Linked DNA regions of Homo sapiens: region 1 is linked to region 2. Evidence: fine-mapped expression QTL. Tissue or cell type: lung. Region 2 holds a variant in brackets; the other region holds the start of a gene. All regions are shown on one strand. Distances are from middle to middle.

Region 1 (2,649 bases), 55 kb after region 2:
ACTCCTGTTCATTGTCAATGAAGAAGGCTGGGAGGTGCTATTTTTCCAGTGCCAGAATCAGGCTCACTAGCCGTAAGTATGCAAAACTAGCTTTGGTCATTTTGACATATGTAAATCCCACTAGCAAGCATAGAGCTTGGATGCCCCTAAAATATAATATGGCACTTCCACCAGTGTAAGAATGGGGAAGTTAGGGTACCCATTTATTTACTCCTTTTTTTTTGAGACAAGGTCACGCTCTGTCGCCAAGGCTGAAGTACAATGGCTTGATCTCACTTCACTGCAAACTCCACTCACGGGCTCAAGTAATTCTCCTGACTCAGCCTCCTGAGTAGCTGGGACTATAGGCACACACCACCATGCTCGGCTAACTTTTGTATATTTTGTTTTTGCCACGTAGCCCAGGCTGGTCTTGAACTCCTGATCCACCTGAATCAGTCTCCCAAAGTGCTAGGATTACAGGTGTAAGCCACCGCACCAGGCCTATTTAATCCTTTCTGTACACTAGACCCTGGTGATAGAAATGGCAGAAATACAGTCCCAGCACTCAAGAGGTAATAGGAACATGGACAAAAAGACATACCATACCAATTACAATACAGTGTGGGAAAGACAGTGGAGGGAAGCATGAGATGCCCTTCCTCTGTGTTGGTAATTGGGCCACAGTTGGGAAAGAGGTGAACAAATCTCTTCTGTGAATACCAACTCAGGGACATCCATGTTTCCACTGCAGAAGGACAAGCCAGCAGAAGGCTAGAAGCCATAAACCGAGTCCTGGCAGGATCAGTGCCACCCACTTTAACCCCAAAGCAGGGCTATTTTCTGCAACCGGAAAGAGTGGCATCTGACTCATGGACTGAATGCACCTTGCCCTCCATGGTAAACTCTGAACACAGAGCAGCCAAGGTTCCCCTCTGCCCTGCGTCTGCACCCATGCTGCAGCGTTCCAGAGCACTCCTCAACATCAATCAGTTCAGGTAAAAGCAGGAGGGAAGCACTCTACCTCTCCTGGATAACCTCCCCAGGTTTCCAAAGGGCATTAAATCTTTGCTAAATGAATGACTGCCACCAAGTTCCACTTTGAAAAGCCCTGCCCAGGAACCCCATTTGTATAAGGCAAAATACAAAGACACCAAGAATTCCTCAATACCCTAAGATTAATTGGGGATCGGTAAAGACTAGAAGATGAAGAGGCGCCAAGGCCAGCCATGTACTCATTTCTGCTCATCAAGCCTTAGCCTGGGTTTATCGCTAGGTGATGGGTCTGAACCCTAGGTGCGGCCCGGGGCTGGAGGCCATCCAGGAGACAATGAGCCCCTTTCCCAGAGAAGCCGAGTGCCCAAGGCACTGGGCTGTCGCCGTCAGAAGACTGCCGAGCGGAAGCCCTGCCCACCGAGGTGGCGGAGACAGGCAGGCCTGGGCAGCCGCTGGGGCGGAGGGACGGCTCTTGGAAACGGAATCCGTACTTTAATTAAAGTTTATGCAGTTTTCCAGGAGCGTCCTGTACCTCATTTCGGCCCTCACGTTTCAGGGAAGCCCTCTCCACAGTTACAGGCAGAAAGGGTGGGCCACTGAGCAGCGTGAGCCCAGATCTTACCCCCACCAAGTGAAGCGGGAAATAACTTGCTACTACCCAGCCTCCGGCCCGCCCCTTCCACTTCCGGTCTTACCCGGCTACTTCCGCTGCTGTTTCGTAGCCGACTGCTGAAGGCTGGTTTGCGTCGACATGGCGGTTACCCTGAGTCTCTTGCTGGGCGGGCGCGTTTGCGCCGCCGTCACTCGCTGTGGGTTCGCGACCCGGGGGGTGGCGGGCCCAGGCCCTATTGGCCGGGAGCCGGACCCCGATTCCGACTGGGAGCCGGAGGAACGGGAGCTGCAGGAGGTGGAGAGGTACCGGCTTCTCCCCGGGCCCTCAGCTTGAAGCAGGGCCTCGTGCCCCGGCGCTCCAGGCCGCGCCCCCTTGGCGCCGGGTGTCCTGCCGCTGCTTGCGCAGCGGCCCTTGTTTCTTCTTACCCGTTGTTAGGGGCGCAGCGTCAGGTGTTCAGCTCCCCTGGGACCACTGGTCCCTTCATTAGTGACGTATTTCATCATCAGTTTAGAGAGTTCGGCATGCTTACAGGCAGTTATTGTTCTAGGTGTTAGCTTTCTGGGTGTACGGAGCAGCTCTAAGCCGGCAACATGGCCCGGTTGCCCTTGCGATCAAAGAGAAGAGGGCTGGGCGCTCCATGATTTAGCCTGAGGCTCTTCAAACATCCATTCTGCTTCCACGCATGGCTTCTGCCATTGGTTCTCTTCCCCCAGCACCCTGAAACGACAGAAACAAGCAATCCGATTCCAGAAAATTCGGAGGCAAATGGAGGCGCCTGGTGCCCCGCCCAGGACCCTGACGTGGGAAGCCATGGAGCAGATACGGTGAGACTCAGGATACCTTGTTTGTATCCGCTGTGATGAGAAGTGAAGGATGCTGGAGCCCAGAAACGGGTTTGGCTTTTTTGATACTGCTTTTATATTTTCGTTTACTTTTTGTCGTTGAAATTTATTATCAGAAAAGTAGAGTAATATAACGAACTTCCCTAACCCTGTCATTATCTAGATTTAATAGTGTTTTGTTTTGTTTTTTAAAGAGACGGGGTTTCGCTATCGCCTCGA
Region 2 (2,841 bases):
GATGCTGTCAGCTTGGTGGAAAAGAAGAGCACAAAGACCGGGCGCGGTGGCTCACACCTGTAATCCCAACACTTTGGGAGGCCGAGGCAGGCGGATCAGCTGAGGTCAGGAGTTCAAGACCAGCCTGGCCAACATGGTGAAACCCCATCTCTACTAAAAAAATATATATATATATACAAAAATTAGCCGGGCATGATGGCGGGTGCCTGTAATTCCGGCTACTCAGGAGGCTGAGGCTGAGGCGGAAGAATCGCTTGAACCCAAGGTTCAAGGTTGCAGTGAGCCAAGATCATGCCATTGCACTCTAGCCTGGGCGACAGAGCAAGACTGTCTTAAAAAAAAAAGAGAGAAGAGCGCAGAAAGACCCTCCTCATCATCATCAAACATCAAACATTGCCATCATCCGACAGTGTCACCAGTGCACTACAAGACGTGTGAACAGGAAATGATGGGCATACGGAGAAGGGCCCTTGCCCAGCCGGGGATCCAGGAAGGCCTCCTGGAGGAGGTGGAACTGAGCCAAGTCTCAAAGGATGAGTGTGAGTTAGTCAAAAGGAAAGCCTTCTGGGTGGAGGGGACTTCCTGAACAGACCGGAGATGAGAGAATTGGGCCCTTGAGTTGCAGTTCCATGTCACTTGGTCGAACCAAGAGGTGGGTGGGTGGCAAGCACTAGCAAGTTAGGAGCTTGGACGACGGGGTGCTATTGAAGTTTTTAGGCAGAACAGTGACGGCTCCCAGAGAGCCCTCTGGCTGCAGCATAGCAGCTGGCCTGGAGATGGGAGGCTGGTTGGGAGGCTGCTGTGATGGTGGCCTAGGTGAGAGAGGATGGTGCCAGGCTCAGGACTGCGGTAGTGGGGATGGTGAGGGGAATGGATTTGGAAAATATTGAGAGAAAATTGGCAGGATTTGATTATAGACTGGACTTCTGAGGAAGGAGGATGGTGAGACACCCAGGTGAGTGGTGCCACACACAAACACAAAATGCCAAGCCAGGGAGTGGGACTGGAAGGGGGCGGTGAGGTGGTGGGAGGCACCCACAGAGGCCCTTCTGCACTGTGGGGTCTGGTGTGTTGGAGGAAGATCTGCACTTGGATGAGGAGATTTGGGGATCGCCAGCATCCGCGTCATTGAAGTGATGAGCATGGACGTGTGACCCAGGGGCTTGAACGGAGTTAAGAAGAGCAGGGCCAGGAGCAGACAGACCTAGAGAGCAAGAACATTCAGGAGCAAAGCCTGAGGCAGGAGGGTGGTCATCAACACAGATGCTGCAGCCAGGTGGCCCAGGGTCGGGCGGCATCCCCACCACTCCTCCCGGGGATGACTTGCACCTGAAACAGAGGTAATAAAACACAGCAGCCTTGTGAGGATGACATGACTTAATCCGTTTAAAGGGCTGAGAAAGTGCTCACATACTTTAGCTCTTTGAGGGCTAGAGGCCCAGAAGGCATGTGAGGGAGACACGGAGTGATGCTTGAGACTGGGGGCACAGGTACCTAGAGGACGGGGTGGCGTGGCCCGTGTCTGGGGTCTGTCAGCGAGGCGATCCCTGGGCTCTTGGCAGGGCTGGCACTGCTGA[A/G]CGTGGGGCTGGCTGAGGCCCAACTTCTGTGGAGGAGTGAGTGGAAGGTGAGAGGCAGAGATGGCATGGGGTGGCTGTTCTCTTTGGGAGCTTGTCTAAGGCAGGTGGAGGGAGGCACAAAAGTTTCTAGAATGGACATTGGAACAAAAACTGCTTTCTGACAGGTAGAGTTGGTGACATAGGATTTGGTCTCTGAGGAGATGGGGTGGGAAGTTGAGGTTGTTTATGCCTGATGACCCCGATTTCCTTGGAAGAAGTGGAGACATCTATAAAAGCAGGAAGGCAGACCCAGGGCAGAGGCCCTAGAAGCCGGGTTGTTAGAGGGGAGCCAGCCCCTGAGCAGAGGGACTGAGCGTGTCCCTGTGTAGACCTGTGAGCAGGCAGGCGGCAGGCAGGCTCCTAAGGTGACGGCAGTGGTCTGTGCACCCATGGCACAGGCCCTAGGTCGGGACTGGGACTGCCTGGGGGTTCTGGCAGAGGCTCTTCGTCTGCCCACTTGGGGCTGTAGCAATGGCTTTCCGGGGCATGCCCCAGGAGCACAGATGCTGTGAGGCCAGGTTCCCTTGCCCTCGTTGCCACTTTCTTGGTGACCTCAGTCCATGGGAGGACCCTTGGCACACAATACCCCCAACCTCTGCCCAGAGTCCCTGGTCAGGGACTCGACTCTGGCACTGGGCTGGTGTCAGCAGAATGTGGCCCCCTCCTCCATGCTCCATGAGGAAGAAGTGGCTGCCCTGCCCAACACGGGCCGTGTGGAGGAAGGAAGTGCACCCAGGTTGGCAGTGTGTCCCAGTTTCCTGCTGACTGTGGCCCCGTCAGCACTCCTGCCCTGGAGGTGGGGCTGCTGCTGGGGTAAGTGGGTCCAAGGTTCTGGTGACTTATCGTGACATCCCTGGGGACGAAGGGCTACAACAGCCTTTCAGGAGGCTCTCTGGGGACTTGTCCCGCCCAGACCCCTCTCTGAGAGTGGGGGAGGCCACTGGCTGCCTCCTTGCATTGGAGGCCCCTTCCCCACCGACTCCACAGGGAAGCTGGTGTTTTCTGGCCTGATCCTGCTGGGGCCTGTAGAGGGTGGGATGTTAGGGCCAGGTCAGCGTCTTGCTGCCGTGCCCGGAGCCACAGTAGAGAGAAAGGTGGGGTGGGGTTCTGAGTCACAGCGCTGCTGCAGCTAGCTGGCTGGCCTGGGGTGGGGACTAACCAGGGTGGGGATGGTGCTGAGCCCTATTCCTGTCTCACCCCAGAGAGCTCCAGGCTTCCGGCTGAG

The links. PIP is the estimated chance that this variant, and not a neighbour inherited with it, causes the effect. A credible set is the group of variants that fine-mapping cannot tell apart.
Region 1: it holds the start of NGRN, and the variant in region 2 is the best candidate, but not a certain one, in a credible set for the expression of NGRN in lung (TOPMed, PIP 0.61).

Annotation. Positions count from the first base shown.
Region 1 is chr15:90,263,987-90,266,635 of GRCh38, forward strand. It overlaps NGRN (neugrin, neurite outgrowth associated), which reads left to right and starts at 1,686. Exons shown (of 3, transcript NM_001033088.3): 1 at 1,686-1,890; 2 at 2,302-2,412. The coding sequence starts at 1,727. TTLL13 (tubulin tyrosine ligase like 13) reads left to right here. Exons shown (of 15, transcript NM_001396017.1): 14 at 1-72; 15 at 734-1,491. The coding sequence ends at 981. It also overlaps a transcript of CIB1 not described here. RefSeq lists enhancers at 698-1,669, 1,157-1,286, 1,647-1,876, 1,670-2,640.
Region 2 is chr15:90,209,234-90,212,074 of GRCh38, forward strand. All of the region lies in intron 1 of SEMA4B (semaphorin 4B), which reads left to right. Among named protein-coding and RNA genes, the nearest start is that of SEMA4B, 9.3 kb to the left of the region's middle. RefSeq lists enhancers at 437-486, 2,022-2,841. The variant A/G (reference allele first, on the strand shown) is at 1,578.